Homo sapiens: one gene and its partners. The protein of the gene in region 3 purifies or fractionates together with the protein of the main gene of each other region. This does not show direct contact. Each region holds a gene or a part of one and is shown on either strand. Other genes may lie near its edges.

What was found.
Region 1: the proteins of TNRC6B (region 3) and PFAS purify together in Homo sapiens (affinity purification with mass spectrometry, with the first as the bait; one large-scale study listed by BioGRID). This does not show direct contact.
Region 2: the proteins of TNRC6B (region 3) and GMPS purify together in Homo sapiens (affinity purification with mass spectrometry, with the first as the bait; one large-scale study listed by BioGRID). This does not show direct contact.

What each region holds. Positions count from the first base shown.
Region 1 is NC_000017.11:8,268,638-8,270,986, reverse strand, and holds the end of PFAS (phosphoribosylformylglycinamidine synthase), read right to left. Parts: coding exon 2,131-2,349; intron 2,034-2,130; coding exon 1,723-2,033; 3' UTR 501-1,722; downstream 1-500. UniProt on the Homo sapiens protein: Phosphoribosylformylglycinamidine synthase involved in the purines biosynthetic pathway. Catalyzes the ATP-dependent conversion of formylglycinamide ribonucleotide (FGAR) and glutamine to yield formylglycinamidine ribonucleotide (FGAM) and glutamate.
Region 2 is NC_000003.12:155,936,650-155,940,149, reverse strand, and holds part of GMPS (GMP synthase [glutamine-hydrolyzing]), read right to left. Parts: intron 2,560-3,500; coding exon 2,458-2,559; 3' UTR 1-2,457. UniProt on the Homo sapiens protein: Catalyzes the conversion of xanthine monophosphate (XMP) to GMP in the presence of glutamine and ATP through an adenyl-XMP intermediate.
Region 3 is NC_000022.11:40,257,925-40,261,424, forward strand, and holds part of TNRC6B (trinucleotide repeat-containing gene 6B protein), read left to right. Parts: intron 1-1,117; exon of another isoform or gene 1,118-2,444; intron 2,445-3,500.

The DNA.
Region 1 (2,349 bases), on a different chromosome or scaffold from region 3:
AAGGGTCAGGAAAGAACATTCAAATGTCAAAAATGATCCGGAGGAGTCCCATACTGCTCAGGGTAGGTCGCTTTGCAAAGCAATGAGAAAAATCTCTGAAATAGTTGTTTTCCCCATAGCCATCATTTAACATTGTTTCATTATTATCAGTTTTTTCTCAGGGTGGCTACTCTACCAGGAGCACACAGAAGTGCTCAGCGCCCCCACCCAGCTCTCCTAGCCCTCAGGGATCTGGGATTATAGTCTCCATTCTCAGGCAAACTCCTTTTATCAAGATGTTGAACATTCTAGGGAGCCAACTGACTTGAGGTGTACAACAGAACAGTCATGAGGAAGGGACCTCTATCCACAGTCCTGTGAGCAAAGGAAGCAACAGACAGCTGCCAGCACAAAGTCTCAACACACTGCCTCCAGGAAGTAAGACTGCAGGATGGCGGGAAGCAGATGTAGTATGGGTGCGCCCAGCCCCCCTCACCATCTGTGGACCCCAGGCAATGCAGTCAACCTTCATTCATCCTTTATTGAAAAGGCGGGGAGGGGCTATCAAGTCCTTTGCTGAATTTTAGTGAGAATTAATTCAGATACATACCAAATGCCTCACACATGCGTGGCTTGAGCTAAGTGTTATACACAGCTATTATTTTTAATTCTATTACACATAAACTCCCTGAGGCCGGTGACAGTGCTTTGCAATAATAACTAATCAACAACAGTCAATGCAGTAAGTGAAGAGTAGAATTCCAGCATACTAAAGGGTTAGGATCTAGGGATGAGAGCCCCAACCACCTCTATCAGAAACAGAGCTGCTGGGCCAGCTGTAGTGGCTCCCACCTGTAATCCCAGCACTTTGGGAGGCCGAGGCAGGCGAATCACTTGAGGTTAGGAGTTTGAGACCAGCCTGGGAGACATGGTGAAACCCTATCTCTACTAAAAATACAAAAATTAGCTGGGTGTGGTGGTGTGTGCCTGTACTCCCAGCTACTCGGGAGGCTGAGGCAGGAAAATTGCTTGAACCCAGGAGGCAGAGGTTGCAGTGGGCCGAGATCACGCCATTGTACTCCAGCCTGGGTGACAGAGTGAGACTGCCTCAAAAAAAAAAAAAAAAAGAGAGCTGCTAATTTAGAAGCAAATAACAGGAATGCTGGGTTCTGAGGCCAGCCCTAAGACAGCCAGAAACGCTGAGAAACTTCCACAAGCAACAATTCCTTACATTCAGTGCAGTGTAGCACTTCAAGAGAAATCCAGAAAGTTTCAGTTCCAGATGAGAACAATGAGGTGGTGAGGGGCTGATCTGCATACTATTGCTGAATTTGTCTGCACCCGCTAACCCCAATGATGAGAAAAGGGAGCGCAAAACATCCCTCAGAGCCAAGGAGGCAATTGCACACCGGTGATCACTGGGTGTTGTGAAGTGGGCAACAGAAGCCCCTGTTCGGACCTCAGGAGTCCTAACTTTTCCTTGTCGCTCTTTTCTCTGAACCACATGCTGTTTCCTGGGCTGAGAAAGGGCATGCCATGTTAGAGCAGAACTGAAAATAGACACAGCCACAGAAGGAACATCAGCAGGCAGATTATCGAGTCCGCTGAGATTTTGGCATTTTGGTCCTTGTCTGTCCAAGATATTTTTGGAAATAATATGGGGTGCTCCTGAAGGTCATGGGGGAGGGGGCAGGACCCACTTAGGTGAAAAGCCATGGGGCCCAGGTGAGCCCCTGTGGCCAGTCAGCAGCTCCCTTCCAGGGTCCAGTTTCGGGCATTGATAAAGAGCTGGAGCCAGGGGGAGGTGGTCAGAGTATCAAATGGAGGGGGTCGCCATGCCCACTGCCAAGGCCTAACGGCCCGCTCAGGGTGAGGCATGACAGCCAGGTGGCGGCCATCACAGGAGCAGATGCCAGCCACGCCCCCTGGGGACCCATTGGGATTCAGAGGGTACTGCTCTGTGGGGTTCCCGTCATCATCAGCCCAGTGCAGTGGAGCCAAGCCCCTGGCCTCAATCTGAGCTTGGAGTTCCGGAGAAGAAAATGCTACGTAACCTGGGATGGAAGGAGGAGGGAAGTGAGAGCCAAGGTCCTTCATGCCCACCCTTGCCCCCAACCCTCGGGCCCTCCCCCAGCCTTCCTTGGGCCTGACCTTCCCCGTGCGCACTCCACACGGGCAGCACGGCGCCCTCCATCCCTCGCAGCATCAGGGCTGGCCCAGGCCCCACACGCACGCTGGCCCAGCGAGACTCGTAGCGCCCAGACAGGTTGTGGCGTAGCAGAAGGCCTGGCCGGGCTGGCTGGGAGTCAGGGCCCATCTCTGCAGCATCCTCATTGGGGTCGCCTCCCACCCAGCCGAGCAGAGCCAGCA
Region 2 (3,500 bases), on a different chromosome or scaffold from region 3:
AGAGAGATGTGTCCCAGGTAGATGGTAAGCAACGGGAATAAAGTCATGATATGCCCAGAATAACCAATGATGAATGTTATTAGCCAGGTAGCCACCATTCTAGTCTTAGTAAAATAAGCATCCCATAAATGTTTATATAATTTTAGGTGTCAGAATACACATCAGGACAATCTGGACTAAGGAAACCTGAAATTTAATTCTGAAATTAATTAAGTAACCATGCCTAAGGTGAGCTTGTTTTCTTAACTGTAAAATGGAAGTGCAACCTTTAACTTTCCTCAGTGGCTCAGATGAAATACTGTGAAGGTACAGAGTAATGCTATATGGCACAAAGCAAAAAGTGCTGTGCAAAAGAAGACAGTGTGCTAAATATTAGGAAATTTCTGAGTTCCAGAAAATTTGGATTTTTAAGAAACTATGTCATGTCAAGATGTGCTTTGGAGTAACAATTTTCCCAATATTATATTAAGTATATACTAAGTATATATTAGAAGGGATTATATAAAAGGTGTTCAAAAAACAAATATCAGGAAAACACTAATTTAAGCAGAATTTAACAATTGTTTTTAACTTCAGAATTTCTCAGAGCTTTGAATATTATATACCATGAATCTCCAGGAAAGGACAAGTGAGCTTATGTTCCCCAAACTTATATGACCACCTAATCCTTTTTACATGGACCTTCTCAGTGGAGCAGTGTTCCATAGAACACACATTCTTACTCTCTATTTTTCCAAAATTCCTACTGTTTGCTTCAATACAAAATCATAAGACACTGTGGCTAGAAATTTTTTTTCATATAAACATAAACGTGTACTGACACATGTTGGTAAGCATTTTATAGGTTGTCTATTCTAGCTTTCAAATAACATGACTCTAAATCTGTAAAGACCAGATCACTAACATAGCCTCTTTCCAGAAGGCCATAATGAGTACCTCCTCATCAGATAGAGAATGTACCCTTTAAGTTTTGTAGGAGTCAAGTACCCCTTTGTCTTGGGGACAGATTTCTGTTAAGACAGACAGAAACTCTTCCCTTGCTGGTCCAGCAGCAGTTTTCTTGTTCCCTGGACCAGCCAGAATAAAAAGATGACTTCTGCCACGCATCATTTTGTTGTTTGTCTAACACTGAATCCCAAATAAAATTTCATTCCTGATTAATAGATCTGACCTTTTAAACTAGACAAGCAGCAGCAACCTGAGATGGAATTGTTAAGAGAAAAATATGGTAACATTCTTAGCTAAAATACTGAGAGAAACGGAGAGTTTAAGTCTACTACTGTCTACAGTACTTATGTGAATGTTATAAAAGATCTGTTAGAAACTGGTGGTGATGGCAACAAGTCCTACACCAGTTCTTAAATCCTCTCTTATAGCTAGTAGAAAGGATTACAAAGTTTGGCAAACATCTTGCATGTATCAAGACTGTTCACAGGTGTCTGAGCAATGAATAATATGTCTATAGATTAGATTTAAAAGCTCATTTTACAACTGTTTACTAGATGATATAAACATTTTTCCTCTCCCTTTTGTAAGCTGTAGGTATGCATCATAGCTTCTGTGATCTCAGAACCGTTTCTCTGACCAGCAAAAGAAGAGATGAAAATGCTCCTCTTGACCTCTATCTGCACTACACCAGAAACGTCATTGAGCCAGTTTCTTCTAAGGAGATAACAGAAACTTTCTATGCAAGGCTGTGGGGGGCTGGTAATATAAGGCTAGGAGGATAAAGCTCCTTACTAATAAACAAGCTGACATTGAATAACATGGCATCTATGTGGAACATGGTTTGAAAACATTTTAAGACCATTCATAGACATCTGAGACCACTCATAGTTTCTTCCTCCCAAGGCTGTGAAATAAAATTCAAAAGTACATCAACAAATTCCTGGTGCTTTTCCATCTTATGGTAGCTTACATTTTATACCCTCAGTGTCCTTCAAAAGTGGCTGGAATAGCCCACCTATACCTTTATCTGATATGTTCATCTCTTTTTCACCCTTTGGAGAAATAAGATTACTTATAAGAAAACTGATTCTCCAAAAAGTATATATAAGTAGTAAGTAACACTGGTAAATAATGGGCGTTTCTAACAGTTCTTAGAAACTGGTAAGGAGACAGAAGCCCATAATTACCCCCAAATTCACCCACCTTCATACATATTCACAGAGACATCAACAGTGAATTTATACATAAAGAATAAGTGAGGCAAAGGCAAAAGCAGTATCAATCTGTCTGAGTGTAGGCAATGGTGCTTTGATTATTTACCCGTACAAACTCTTCAGTCCCTTTTGGTTATCCCCAACTCAGCTCTTAAGCCGTAGATTTTTGCTGTGGAGAACTCAGATGTGATGTAGCTGCTCCAGTAACTCTTTTCACAGTACTGCATGTCAATAATGGGAATGATTTCTAATCAATTTAAACTGCACACGGTACTTTAATAGAACAAGAAGTTTATTACTCCCACTCAGTAGTTCCTGGGGGCTTTGATGTTAAGTCATACATAATTCGAGAAATACCAGGAATCTTCTTAATCTCAGTGACCATCTTTAATACCACCTATTAAAAAAAATTATAGAGAAAAGTCAGCATCCACTGCATGTCCAGCAGTCCTAGAGGGCTTACATTTGTAATTTGAAATTAAAATTTGACTATTTTCACTATTGTCCTCCATGTATATGGGATGGTTTCTGATTAATCTTATATAATGAACCTATTCCCCTCTGCAGGGATAGGTGTAAGTTATTAAGGTTTAAAATATTAGTGACTTAAACTCAGTACTACTCAAAGTGTGATCCACAAACAGGTGCTAGTCTGCAAGTTGTGTTTGTGACTGAGCCACAAGTGCTTAAGAACATATAGCGATTTGACATTGCTGTGGCATCCAAGCATGTGATTTTATGTGTTTCAGCCAATGCTCTGCAAATTATCTGCAGCTTAAACATACAACTCTAAGGGCCACCAAGGTGGCACAGAGTACACTGTAATAATCATTATCAAGTATACAGGAGAGGATAGCCTGCTCACTTGTCAAATTTGACAAATTTGAGCCTAAGAGAAAAATGACTCTAAGCCACGTTCCGAACCAACCCATCTACCTAGCTATCACGACAGCTTCGTGTTAGTGCACTGGAGGCAGTGGCCCAACTAATAGAGTCTCACTTTGATTTTCACTTGCTATTATGCAAGTAGCTCCTTTGGAATGTTCTGGTGAAGACAAAGAAGGATCAAAAATTGAGTTGGAATTGGTAGTAGGGAGAACATTTAGGCAATTCTTGGGTGTCTGGCCATAAAGCTATCAAATTGCATCCTTATTTCTAACAAACTCTTCTTCACTCCTAGAGTTTTCTTTTTTATTTGGGGAATACTGTTTGTAAAGTAGAAATTGGCAGGATTAGATAAAATTATAATCAATTACTTTTTATACAGTAATCACACAATTGGAGAGCATATATAATTTAAAGCCTTTTTCTGCCCCAGTGTATTAATCAAATATGTGA
Region 3 (3,500 bases):
AATCACTTGAACCTGGAAGGTGGAGGTTGCAGGAAGCTGAGATCCTGCTACTCCACTCTAGCCTGGGCAACAGAGCAAGACTCAGTCTCAAAAAACAAACAAAAAAAGAAGTAAATGAATGGAAATCAGAAAATAGGATACACAGCCTTTTTTTTTTTTTTTTTTTTTTTTTTTTTTACCCCACAATGTTTTTATTTCCCTATAGTACTGAGATCATGTTTAAGCCACAAACCTTTCCTCTGGAAGATAAGAAACTATGCACTTACTTTGAACAGCTCATCTTTAGAAAAACTTGCACAACTTACAAATCCTTAAGATTCAGAAAAGAGACAGCCTGAAAAGTAACATATTCAGACTTTTAATGATAGCTTCTCTTGCCCTTTATCGTCTAACATTCTGGACCATGATGATGGGTGATGCACACTGATTCTGATGTCTTAAGTTTGGACTTTGGGAGTCAATTTGGATCAGACATCCTGCCTGAAAAGCTGTGTTGCTCTCCAATTAGTGCCGGCAATTCTGGTTGGCCTTTAAAAGCTTAACATTCTTGGATTCACAGAAAGGTGTGATTTAAAAAATAGAGTAAGAATTCATTCAGGTGCTGAAACACAGTTTGCTATGACTAAGGTGGTGTCTTGGGCGTTTTCTGACTGTTTCCTGGAGGTTTTGTTTTTTTCTTTTTATACTTTGACCTATTTGTACATGATGTCCTGGAGTTTGAATGACTAATCTCCTGGGCCAGAGCACACTGTATTGGGAGGAAAGTGGTTGAGGTGTGTTCCCATTTTATAATGACTTTATCATTTACAATCCATTCTGTCTCTGATGTGGTGGGAAAGTGCCCTGAGGAACTTTTGCAAGGAATCTTACATGATACGTGATACCTACCAAATTTCTTCAGTTGAAACAGTGCTGTGAATGTTTTAAAGTGAGTCAAACTGGTGTTCAGCCCTCAGTCCTGCAGGTCACTCTGTCATGTCTTGTTGTTTTTCTGGATTGAGTTAAAAGTATGTAGTAGACCTGGGTAACTTATAATGAAGATTCTTGACCTTTATAGCAGGGCAGCCTTACAGAAACATAGCTCTTTCTGTCCTAAAAACCAGTTGGGATGAATTTCTCCAGTCTCTGCCAACTTCTTGTTTATTCTCATAATAAGATAAAAGGGGATTGCGAATGCCCTGTGCTATAGAATCCTCCAGTAACAGATAGAAAATTAATATTAAATAATCTTCATTCATTCATTTACCAGTTATGTATCCATCTGTTGTTATAGGTCATGAATATTAGATAATGACTAATTTTCTTTTCTTTTTTTTTTGAGACAGAGTCTTGCTCTGTGGCCCAGGCTGGAGGGCAGTGGCACGATCTCGGCTCACTGCAACCCCCGCTTCCCAGGTTCAAGCAATTCTCGTCCTCAGCCTCCTGAGTAGCTGGGAATACAGGCGCATGCCACCACGCCCAGCTAATTTTTGTATTTTTAGTAGAGACTAGGTTTCACAATGTCGGCCAGGATGGTCTCGATCTCCTGACCCTGTGATCTACCCACCTCGGCCTCCCAAAGTGCTGGGATTACAGGCGTGAGCCATCGCGCCTGGCCGACTAATTTTATTTTCTTAAGTCACACATTTATTCTGCTCATCAGATTTTGGATCCTCTGACCTCCACTCCCCCTCCCCTTACTGGGAGGCCTGGTGCTGCCTTGTGATTAGCTGAGGTTAGACATGGGGTTACCTGGAAATTGCTGCAGGCACCTGCTCTTTTCTCCTGTCACCCACAGTATGTTAATGTCCAGTAGTGGCATAGATTGGGCCGCCTGATTTCTGATGATGTATCTCTCTCATAAAGGAGCCAGTTCAGCAAGCAACATGCTGGCCCCGCATCATTTTAGCAGTCAAAGCAGTACTACCCCCAGAGTTGGCCCTGACGTTACCCTGGGAGGCAGGGATTTGGGCCTCAGAATCATCCGAACTGTCAGGCTTGATGATTATTTCTGTACGACTTCCAGCCTCTATTTGCCAGGTAGATTTTTATGGAGAGGGTAGTGATCTTCTGGCAGCATGCAGCGAGGGAGGTACAGATCTAAGAGAGCCTTCTCTGTATGTTCGACGGGAAGAGCCAGAGGGTCCGGCAGAGTGCGGTTTCACGGTTGCCCCGACATTCCCACGCTGTGTGCGGGCCATTTTTAAAATTAAGTTTAAAAAAATCAAATGATTTAAAGTAAACAGAAAAAGTATTTACATTTTGAAATTTCTATTTTAAAGAATTGGGAAGAAACACTTTTTTTTTTTTTTAAAGAAAAGCAAAAAGATTTGTAACATTTCTAGTATTTACACAGAGAGCGGTGCAAGTCTTTGAGTCCAGGTAGCTGTAGAAACCAGAACCAAGCTGAGTTTGTGATTTTCTAGGCCTGGAGTTTCTTGTAAGAGTCCACTCTGTGCCATGCCCTAAGGAAGAAAGAAAAGATGAAAGATGGGTCCTTGCCCTCAGGAAGTCATGGCCTGGTGAGGGAGAAGGACTTGTAAATGGAGAATTTCTGTGATAGAGAGAGATGGGACTTGTAGATGGAGAATTTCGGTGGTAGAGATAGATGGATTTTTGAATGGAGAATTTTCATGGTAGAGAGAGATGGATGATGTGTTCCAGGAGCACTTAGGAAGAATGTTTAGCCCATCTAGGCCAGGGGCTTCAATAAAGTTTACTCAGGGGTAGATCTTTTAAGAATGTGGATGAAGGGAAGGGACCCTTGGACTGAGGCTTGAAACCTTTCCCAAGGACTTTGCCATGGACATTTAACTCTTCTAGGCAGCACTTCAGGGAATTAATTCCACTGTTGATTTAGGGGAGTGAATGTTGATTGCTTCCCTCTCCGCCTTAATTAATGGAATGTATTCCATGACCTTGCTGTGTTTAAATTCTTGTCACTGTCAGCCGCCACCTTCATCCTACCTTCAGCAAACTGGAGAGATTGTGGAGAATTTGGAAAAACTGTTTCCCTTGAGAGTAGAGTAAAAGGAGAAGTTACTTTGTTAGAATTGGTACCATGTAAGCTTTCTTACAAATAATCTTAGCCAGGGTCTGGGTGTGGTGGCTCACACCTGTAATCCCAGCACTTTGGGAGGCCGAGGTGGGTAAATAGCTTGAGTTCAGGAGTTCGAGACCAGTCTAGGTAGGCAACATGGCAAAACCCTGTCTCTAGAGGAGGAAAAAAAAATTAGTTGGGCATAGTGGTGTATGCATTGTAGTCCCAGCTACTCAAGAGGCTGAGGTGGGAGGATCACTTGAGCCCTGGAGGTAGAAGTTGCAGCAAGCCAAGATCACTGCACTCCAGCCCGAGTTATACAGCAAGACCTCATCTCAAAAAAATAAAAAATAGGCTGGGTGCAGTGGCTCATGCCTGTAATCTCAACACTTTGGGAGGCCAAGGCAGGCGGATCATGAGGTCAGGAGTTCAAGACCAGCCTGGTCAACATAGTGAAAACCTGTCTGTACTAAAAATACAA